2 linked regions of the Homo sapiens genome follow. Changing the gene in region 1 together with any one later gene gives a genetic interaction. Each region holds a gene or a part of one and is shown in the gene's direction. Other genes may lie near its edges.

Region 1 (3,810 bases):
GCTGCCGGGATGGGCCGAGGCTTCACCATGGCCCCGTCCACATGCCTGGCTCTTCCCTCGTGCCCTGCCTGAAATATTCCCTGTGTAATCCTTAGTGGGTAGAGTTGCCAGGTGGGGGTGATGACTACAGAGGTGGGATTGGGAGCCAGAAGGCCTAAACCTGTATCTCAGCTGTCACCCCGGCTGGAGTGCATGCAGTGGCATGGTCATGGCTCACTGCAGCCTCTACTTGCTGCACTCAGATGATCCTCCCACCTTAGCCTCCTGAGTAGCTGGGATTATACGCGTGCACTTGTAGACAGGAGCTCTTGAAGGGGCCACAGCTGGATCCTGAGCCCCCATCTCTCTCTCTCCAGGACTGTGGAGGGGGAATTCACAGGAGTTGGGAAGAAGGGGCAGGCGTGCGTACAGCTGGCCCGGATCCTGCAGTACCTGGAGTGTCCACAGTAAGGGGGTCACTCCCCTAAGCATGAGGGAGGGGTGTGTCAAAGTGGAGACCAGGTAGGAGGCGGCTTCCCCTGGGAACATCCTGAGGTCAGCATTCTTTCCTAGGTACCTGAGGAAGGCGTTCTTCCCCAAGCACCAGGATCTACAGTTTGCAGGTAACGCTGTATGGGCCCGCCCCCCCATTTCCCCTGGATCATGCCACAGACACTGAGACCACCCAGTCCTACCCTGCGCTGTCCAGGTGGGAAAGCAGGCCTGGGAGAGCAAGACCTGTGTCTGATGCCAAGACGCAGGTCTGTGGCAGAGCCGGTACTCCGCTCCAGGGTCCCCACTGCACCCTGTGTGCCCTAGCACTTCCCAGACTCTTCCCGGCTCTGCCTCCACAGGGCTCCTGAACCCCCTGGACAGCCCCCACCACATGCGTCAGGATGAGGAATCCGAGTTCCGAGAGGGCATCGTGGTGGATCGGCCCACCCGGCCAGGCCACGGCTCCTTTGTCAACTGTGGCATGAAAAAGGTAGGAACAGAAAGATGGGCTAGGACACACCTCCAGGACACACCCTGGCAATGGAGGGCAAGCAGATGGATGTTGCGGAGAGCCCTGGACCTGCCCGAAATCCCTCACTGATGCAAATTTGGGCCAGAGAATTGTGCAAAATGGGGCTCAATAGATAAAGCCAGGAATGAATTTACTGTTGCTTAAAAAGCAAATCAACAGAAGACAGTCCTCATGCTCCAAACAAAACCCTGCAGAAACAAGTTGAAAGTCACTCTGGAGCTGCTCCCATGTGGCACAGAGCCAAGCTGGGATGAGGGCATTAATTTGCCGCCTCTTTATCCTCAAGCCTCCTCAAATCAGAGGCAGAAACCTTTACATGTATGGAGTCCCTTCCTGTCAGAAAGCACAACCCAAGCGCAGTGGCTCACGCCTGTAACCCCAGCACTTTGGGAGGCTGAGGCAGGCGGGTCATTTGAGGTCAGGAGTTTGAGACCAACCTGGCCAATATGGTGAAACCCTGTCTCTAATAAAAGTACAAAAATGATCCAGGTGTGGTGGCACGCATCTATAATCCCAGCTACTCGGGAGGCTAAGGCAGGAGATTCACTTGAACCCAGGAGACAGAGGTTGCAGTGAGCTGAGATCGTGCCACTGCACTCCAGCCTGGGTGAGAGAGCCAGACTCCATCTTAAAAAAGAAAAAAAAGAAAAAAAAGTTGCAGAGCTACCAAAATGTAGAAAACTGAGTTTCATCTACTTCTATCCTGTGCCATGAGCGCCCCAAAGGTGCATGTTTGGCCAGTGACCTGTGTTTTGCACAAATGATCTCTTGTGAGCAGGTTCAGCCGGTGCCAGGGGTGGAGGGTGGCAGGTTGACCTGGACCCCTTGGTCCCTTGCCAGCCCCGGGGCTCCCCTGGTGGCATCTGGAAGAGCCGTGGCCCCTGCTGATCTTGAGAGGAATGGCACCCATTTCTTCTGGCTTCTCCCCAGGAGGTGAAGATTGACAAGAACCTGGAGCCCGGGCTTCGGGTGACTGTGCGACTGAACCAGCAGCAGCACCCAGGTATCTGGAAGGTTCCCCAACCCCTGGGTTGGCCTGATGAGCTCCAGGGTTCAGCCACCTGCTTCCATTCCCTCACCCCATCTTTACAGACTCTGTTACCCCTCCAGACTGCAAGACCTACCATGGCAAAGTGGTATCATCGCAGGACCCTCGCACCAAAGCTGGTCTCTACTGGGGCTACACCGTCCGACTGGCTTCCTGCCTCAGTAAGGACAGACCTTACTTCTCTGAATATCCATCCATCCCTCTGGGAGGTGGCCGGGAGCCTTGCCTGACCCAAATATCAGACCAGGGTTTTTGTCCTGTCAACTTGCTGTGTGTCCTTGGGCAAGTCCTTCCCCTTCTCTGGGCCTTGTTCTCCCTGGATGCACTGCCTGGAATGCTGTTAAGGACTACTGAGCAAAAGTATCATTATTGATCAATAATGTTTCTGTAGGGTTGGGAATGGAGGCAAAAGGGCCAGAGAAGTCAGAGGCCCACTTCATGTTCTTGGTGCCTCTTCCTATCCAGTCTCTGCCCTGTTCCCCAGCCAAGCACAGGCTTGGTGTCTGCCCTGCTCAGTCCTTGACTTTCCAGGAACAGCTCTACCCACCCCTGCTCGGTACACACACACCCCTGCCTCAATGCACACACAGGCAGAGCTCTACCCACCCACCCCTACCTTAGTACACACACGCACACACACACACACACACACCACACAGCTCTTCCCACCCACCCCCGCCTCAGTACACACACACATAATACCCGGAGCTATGGCTTGTGGGGAGCAGGACCTGCACTGAGCTGGCCCCACCCCCAGGTGCTGTGTTTGCTGAGGCCCCCTTCCAAGATGGGTATGACCTGACCATCGGGACGTCAGAGCGCGGCTCAGATGTGGCCTCTGCCCAGCTTCCCAACTTCAGGTGTGTACCTCCTGGGGCTGCGGCCAGGGCAGGAGGAATGTGGCCAGGAACCTGCCTGGTGGGTGAAGCTGCACAGATGGGCCCCTGCTGTCTGGGGTGGGGAGGGACTGAGGTCTGGGCGCTGTGCTGGGTGGGGCCTCGGTGGCCGCTCAGGTGACCCCCTCTTACATGGGCCAGGCATGCTCTTGTGGTGTTCGGGGGCCTCCAGGGTCTGGAAGCTGGAGCGGATGCTGACCCCAACCTGGAGGTGGCTGAACCCAGTGTCCTCTTTGACCTGTACGTCAATACCTGTCCTGGCCAGGGTAGCCGTACCATCCGCACGGAGGTGAGCCCGCCTGCCTCCCCGACTGCCAGCCACTGGGGCCTTGGGATCTGTCCGAGGGGCGGGTGCTACTCTTGCCCTGTCACCCACCCTTGCCCGTGGCTGCCTTGTCTGGAGGTGGTCCTCTCATCCCCCTTGGCCTCTTGCCACAGCGACGAGACATGAGTGTAGCTGGGAGTCAACCATGGGTGCTAGTGCCCGTCCTGTGCTCCCAGACTGGGTGACCCAGGGGGCCCTGCCCACCCCTGCTCCGGGCCTCTGGTTCCTTAGCCGTGCGCTCAGTGATCTCCCAGGGCCCTGGTTCTGCCACTTCCTTGTGTGTGACCACGGTGGGCACAGCAGCTCTCCCCTTGGGGTCTCACTTGCATCTGTCCCACGGGGGAAGCCACGTGCAGCTGGAGCCTTCGTCCTGGCCTCATGGAACCTGTGTACCCACTTTTGGGGTCAGGCATAGGACGCTGTGCTACGGGAACTCTGCTGGGAAGGCTGGTACTCCCATCAGTCTCGCCGGGCCGACAGCCCTGTCTACCCATCCCTAAGGCCTTGCCCAAGCCGAGCACTCTGAGCCTGACAG
Region 2 (3,810 bases), on another chromosome or scaffold:
TGTGGACCTGAGGCTGGCTGCCTGCCTGACCACTGCCCCTTCTTGCCGAACAGCTTTCAGGGCTACAGTGTGGTGGCCTGTGTGAATGGTGCCCATTGCAGTGTGCAGTGCCCAGTAGGCAGCAAGAATGTGGGCCAGTCCTTTTCCCTCCAGGGGCCTCCACGTCTCATGCTGCGGGGGAGTTGGGAATCCATCAAGGATGCAGACACATAGCTTCATGTTACCATCCTCTTCTCTCTTGCTCCTGGTGGACCTGGCTGATGCATCACAGAGCTCATTCCTGCAAGTCTGGGCTCAGCCTCAGATCCTCATGCCAGCACCAGGCAGCCAATACCAATAGAATTGTTAGGTGAGATGAAACCTGTTTGCCATTCATAGATGAGAAAAGCTCATCTGGCTCCTTTAGCAGATGTTTGTTTCTTGCAGCCCCAAGACTAGCATCTACCAACTCCTCAGTCCTGGGGGCGGACTTGCCATCAAGCATGAAAGAAAAAGCCAAGGTGAGTGGGACTGCCTTCCAAGCTATTGCCTATGGGATTTAAGGTGCCTGGTAGGGGACAGTCTTACATGTCAGAGAAGGATAGGGTTGTGAGTAATTGCCCCACCTGGATTCAGAGCTCAACCTGTGTCACCAGTTGTGGGATCTTAGTCCCTTCACCTCTCTGGGCCTCAGTTTACTTTTCTATAAAGATAAGGATGATGCCTGCTGCAGTGGGCCACTGGGCACATTCTACACCTGGGGTAGGCGATTTCTTTCCTCTTTCATGCCTGCGTTCACCCGTTCACTCAACAGATCTTGACTAATACCTGTTATGTTCCAGGCACTGTGCTAGGTGTGGAGGCACCGTAGTGATCAAGACATCTGTGGTTCTGAAACTCTAAAAGCATTTTCCAAACTGGAAACTGCTCAAAAAACAAGGTGTCATTTTCTAATAATCCAGAAAGCAGAGTTAGATACATACATGTATAAAGAATTGTGCCTCTGCGATTGCCTGGAGCATTAGCAACAATGTCTCAAAGTAATTATGAAGTAATGATAAGATCAACAACAAACTGCTACTTACCACTTAGTAAATAACTACCATGTCCCAAGAACTGGGATTCTGTTTTCTCAACACCTCTGGTGAGAGGAGGTGCTGTTTTTAACCTCACTTTAAAGATTGGGAAACAGATTGAAGGGGTAGTTTACCCAAACTCACACAGCTAAGAAGTGGTAAGATTGGGTTCAGATGCAAGTGGCCTGTGCTCTTAGTTCACCATGCCATACCAGATGTGTCTGTCACTCTTGTTCTCTGTAGGCAGAGACAGAGAAAGCTGGCAAGACTGGGAATTCCATGCCACACCCTGCCACTGGGAAGACGGTGGCCAACCTTCTTTCTGGGAAGTCTCCCAGGAAGTCAGCAGAGCCCTCAGCAAATACTACGTTGGTCTCAGAAACTGAGGAGGAGGGCAGCGTCCCGGCCTTTGGAGCTGCTGCCAAGCCTGGTAAGAAGTCCCCACCTCTAGGAACCTAGTCCCCAGAACTTGGGCTGGTGAGGCAGGCCTAGGCATTGCTTTAAGTTCTGGGACATTTCTGGAATCAAAAGTTTGTCTCCAGGACAGCCAGGTTCCTGCATCTTAGGACTTTTCTCATCACCTAGACGAGGGAGGGTCAGCTTACAGGGACCTGGCCTCAGGCTGAACAGCCCACCTGGTGGTTGGAGCATTTTCTGCTTTATGACTCCCTGGTGAGTTACAGGGACAACTGGCAGCTCAGAGACTAAACTGAAAGGCCTGATTTGCCTCTGTTTCCTATGTAGAGTAGACATCTGTCTGGCCTGCATCAGTGGATATGATGGTGGATGGAGGTTCTGTAGACTGTCAGGTGCTGGTGCATATTTGTTGGGTCCCCTCACAGCCCTTCCCAGGGCCTCAGAGATGTGTGGGAACATAGGGATGGTGATGGTACCCACCTCAGAAGGGGGCTTCACAGCTCAGTGCATGTGAGGCACACGAGGGGTGAGCGCTCAGCACCTGGCTTTGATGAGCAGCTGGTTTGTGGGGAGGTGCTGGGGAGGGGCAGGTGAGGCTGGAAAGGGAGTCCCTCAGTCCCCTCCGTGTCCGATCCTCAGGGATGGTGTCAGCGGGCCAGGCCGACAGCTCCAGCGAGGACACCTCCAGCTCCAGTGATGAGACAGACGTGGAGGTAATTGCCACCCATCCCTAGGAGTTGCCCTCTCCCAGCCTCTAACCCTTCCAGGAACCTGTCTGGGGCTTCAGACACCAGTGGGCCCAGATGAGTTCAGCAACTGTGGTAGGGTGACCAGGAGCTGGAAAGGCTGCAGCCGGAGAGGGGCAGGGAGAGGAGTCTGGTGCTGCTTGCTGCACTCTGAGTGTGAGATCAGCCCTGGGGGCAGGAGAGGGACACCCTCCTGCCTGTGAGACTAGACAAGCCTTCCTGGGAGAGGTGCCCTGGAGTAGGGCCTCAAAGCACAGTGGGCTTCACTGGGAAGGGATGTGGAGGAGGCAGGGCATTCCAGACAGGAAATGGGGCAAGAACAGGGCCCAGAGGCAACAGTGTGGCTGTCGTGGTCTGGCTAGGGCTGCGGCTGCTGAGAGGGTTCTGGGCCAACTGGTGAATGCCAGGCCTAGACACTTGGCTAGAGTTGGGCAGGACTCTTGGGTTTGTGAACTTTGACCTGGAAAAGGTCTCCACAGGTTACTTTTTATTGTGTACCTACTAAGTGGCAGACCTGGGGAATATAGTGATGAGCAGGACAGGCAGAGTTCCTGCTGCCATGGGGCAAGGGAGCGTCCCTCAGATATTTAATTGGTGATGGCTGCTATGAAGTGGAAATGTAGAGGGCCACGCAGGGCAGGAACCTGACGTTGATGAGTAGGCGTAAGCAGAAGGAATGGCATGTGCAGAGAAGGCGGCAAAGAGAGTTTGGTGCTTTTAAAGAACATTGATCTTTTTTTAAGACAGTCTCACTGTGTCACCCAAGCTGGAGTGCAGTAGCGCGATCTTGGCTAGCTGCAACTTCCACCTCCCGGGTTCAAGCGATTGTCGTGCCTCAGCCTCCCAAGTAGCTGGGATTACAGGTGCACGCCACCACGCCTGGCTAATTTTTGTATTTTTTGTGGAGACAGGGTTTCACCATGTTGGCCAGGCTAGTCTCGAACTCCTGACCTCAAGTGGTCCATGTGCCTTGGCCTCCCAAAGTGCTGGGATTACAGGCATGAGCCGCCACGCCTGGCCAAAACCTTGATCTTTAAATGAGAGGGAGAAACCAGGCACGGTGGCTCGCACCTGTAAGTGCAGCACTCTGGGAGGCCAAGGCAGGAGGATCATTTGAGGCCAGAAGTTTGAACCCAGCCTGAGCAACATAGTGAAACCCTGTCTCTACAAGATGTTATTTTTTAAAAAAACAAATAAATTATGGGGAAAGTGACACAAGATGAAGTCCTAGGTAGACAGGGGCCAGATCTTCTGTCTGACCTTGAGGACCACCATAAGGAATTTGGGTTTTATTCTAGGGGCTGTGAGAAGCCATGCCAGCAAGGAGAGATGGCCTGATTTGCATTTAATAAGATTGCTGGCTGCAGCCTGGGTTGGAGGGCAGTGCAGAATAAAAGCAGTAAGACCATGTAGGAGACTATTGGAGTAATACTGATACTGGCATAAGAGGCTGGGGGCTGGGAGACCAAGGTGTCCACAGTTGGAAAGATGTTTTCAAGGGAAAACCAGCACAAGTCAGGGATGAACTGATCTGGTGCCCAGGGAACTTCTCACTTTACTGTGCTGCCTGGCCCAGTAACCCTGTGAAGGTT

Evidence for each region.
Region 2: changes in SPOUT1 (region 1) and TCOF1 together harm fitness more than expected from each alone (negative genetic interaction), as found in Homo sapiens cells (one large-scale study listed by BioGRID).

What each region holds. Positions count from the first base shown.
Region 1 is NC_000009.12:128,823,176-128,826,985, reverse strand, and holds part of SPOUT1 (28S rRNA (uridine-N(3))-methyltransferase), read left to right. Parts: intron 1-356; coding exon 357-446; intron 447-552; coding exon 553-602; intron 603-833; coding exon 834-964; intron 965-1,936; coding exon 1,937-2,009; intron 2,010-2,116; coding exon 2,117-2,215; intron 2,216-2,811; coding exon 2,812-2,914; intron 2,915-3,091; coding exon 3,092-3,239; intron 3,240-3,810. Other genes in the region: KYAT1-SPOUT1 (uncharacterized protein LOC127739546), read left to right, coding at 357-446, 553-602, 834-964, 1,937-2,009, 2,117-2,215, 2,812-2,914, 3,092-3,239. UniProt on the Homo sapiens protein: S-adenosyl-L-methionine-dependent methyltransferase that specifically methylates the N3 position of a uridine in 28S rRNA. Required for association of the centrosomes with the poles of the bipolar mitotic spindle during metaphase.
Region 2 is NC_000005.10:150,367,418-150,371,227, forward strand, and holds part of TCOF1 (treacle protein), read left to right. Parts: intron 1-426; coding exon 427-500; intron 501-1,298; coding exon 1,299-1,485; intron 1,486-2,111; coding exon 2,112-2,185; intron 2,186-3,810.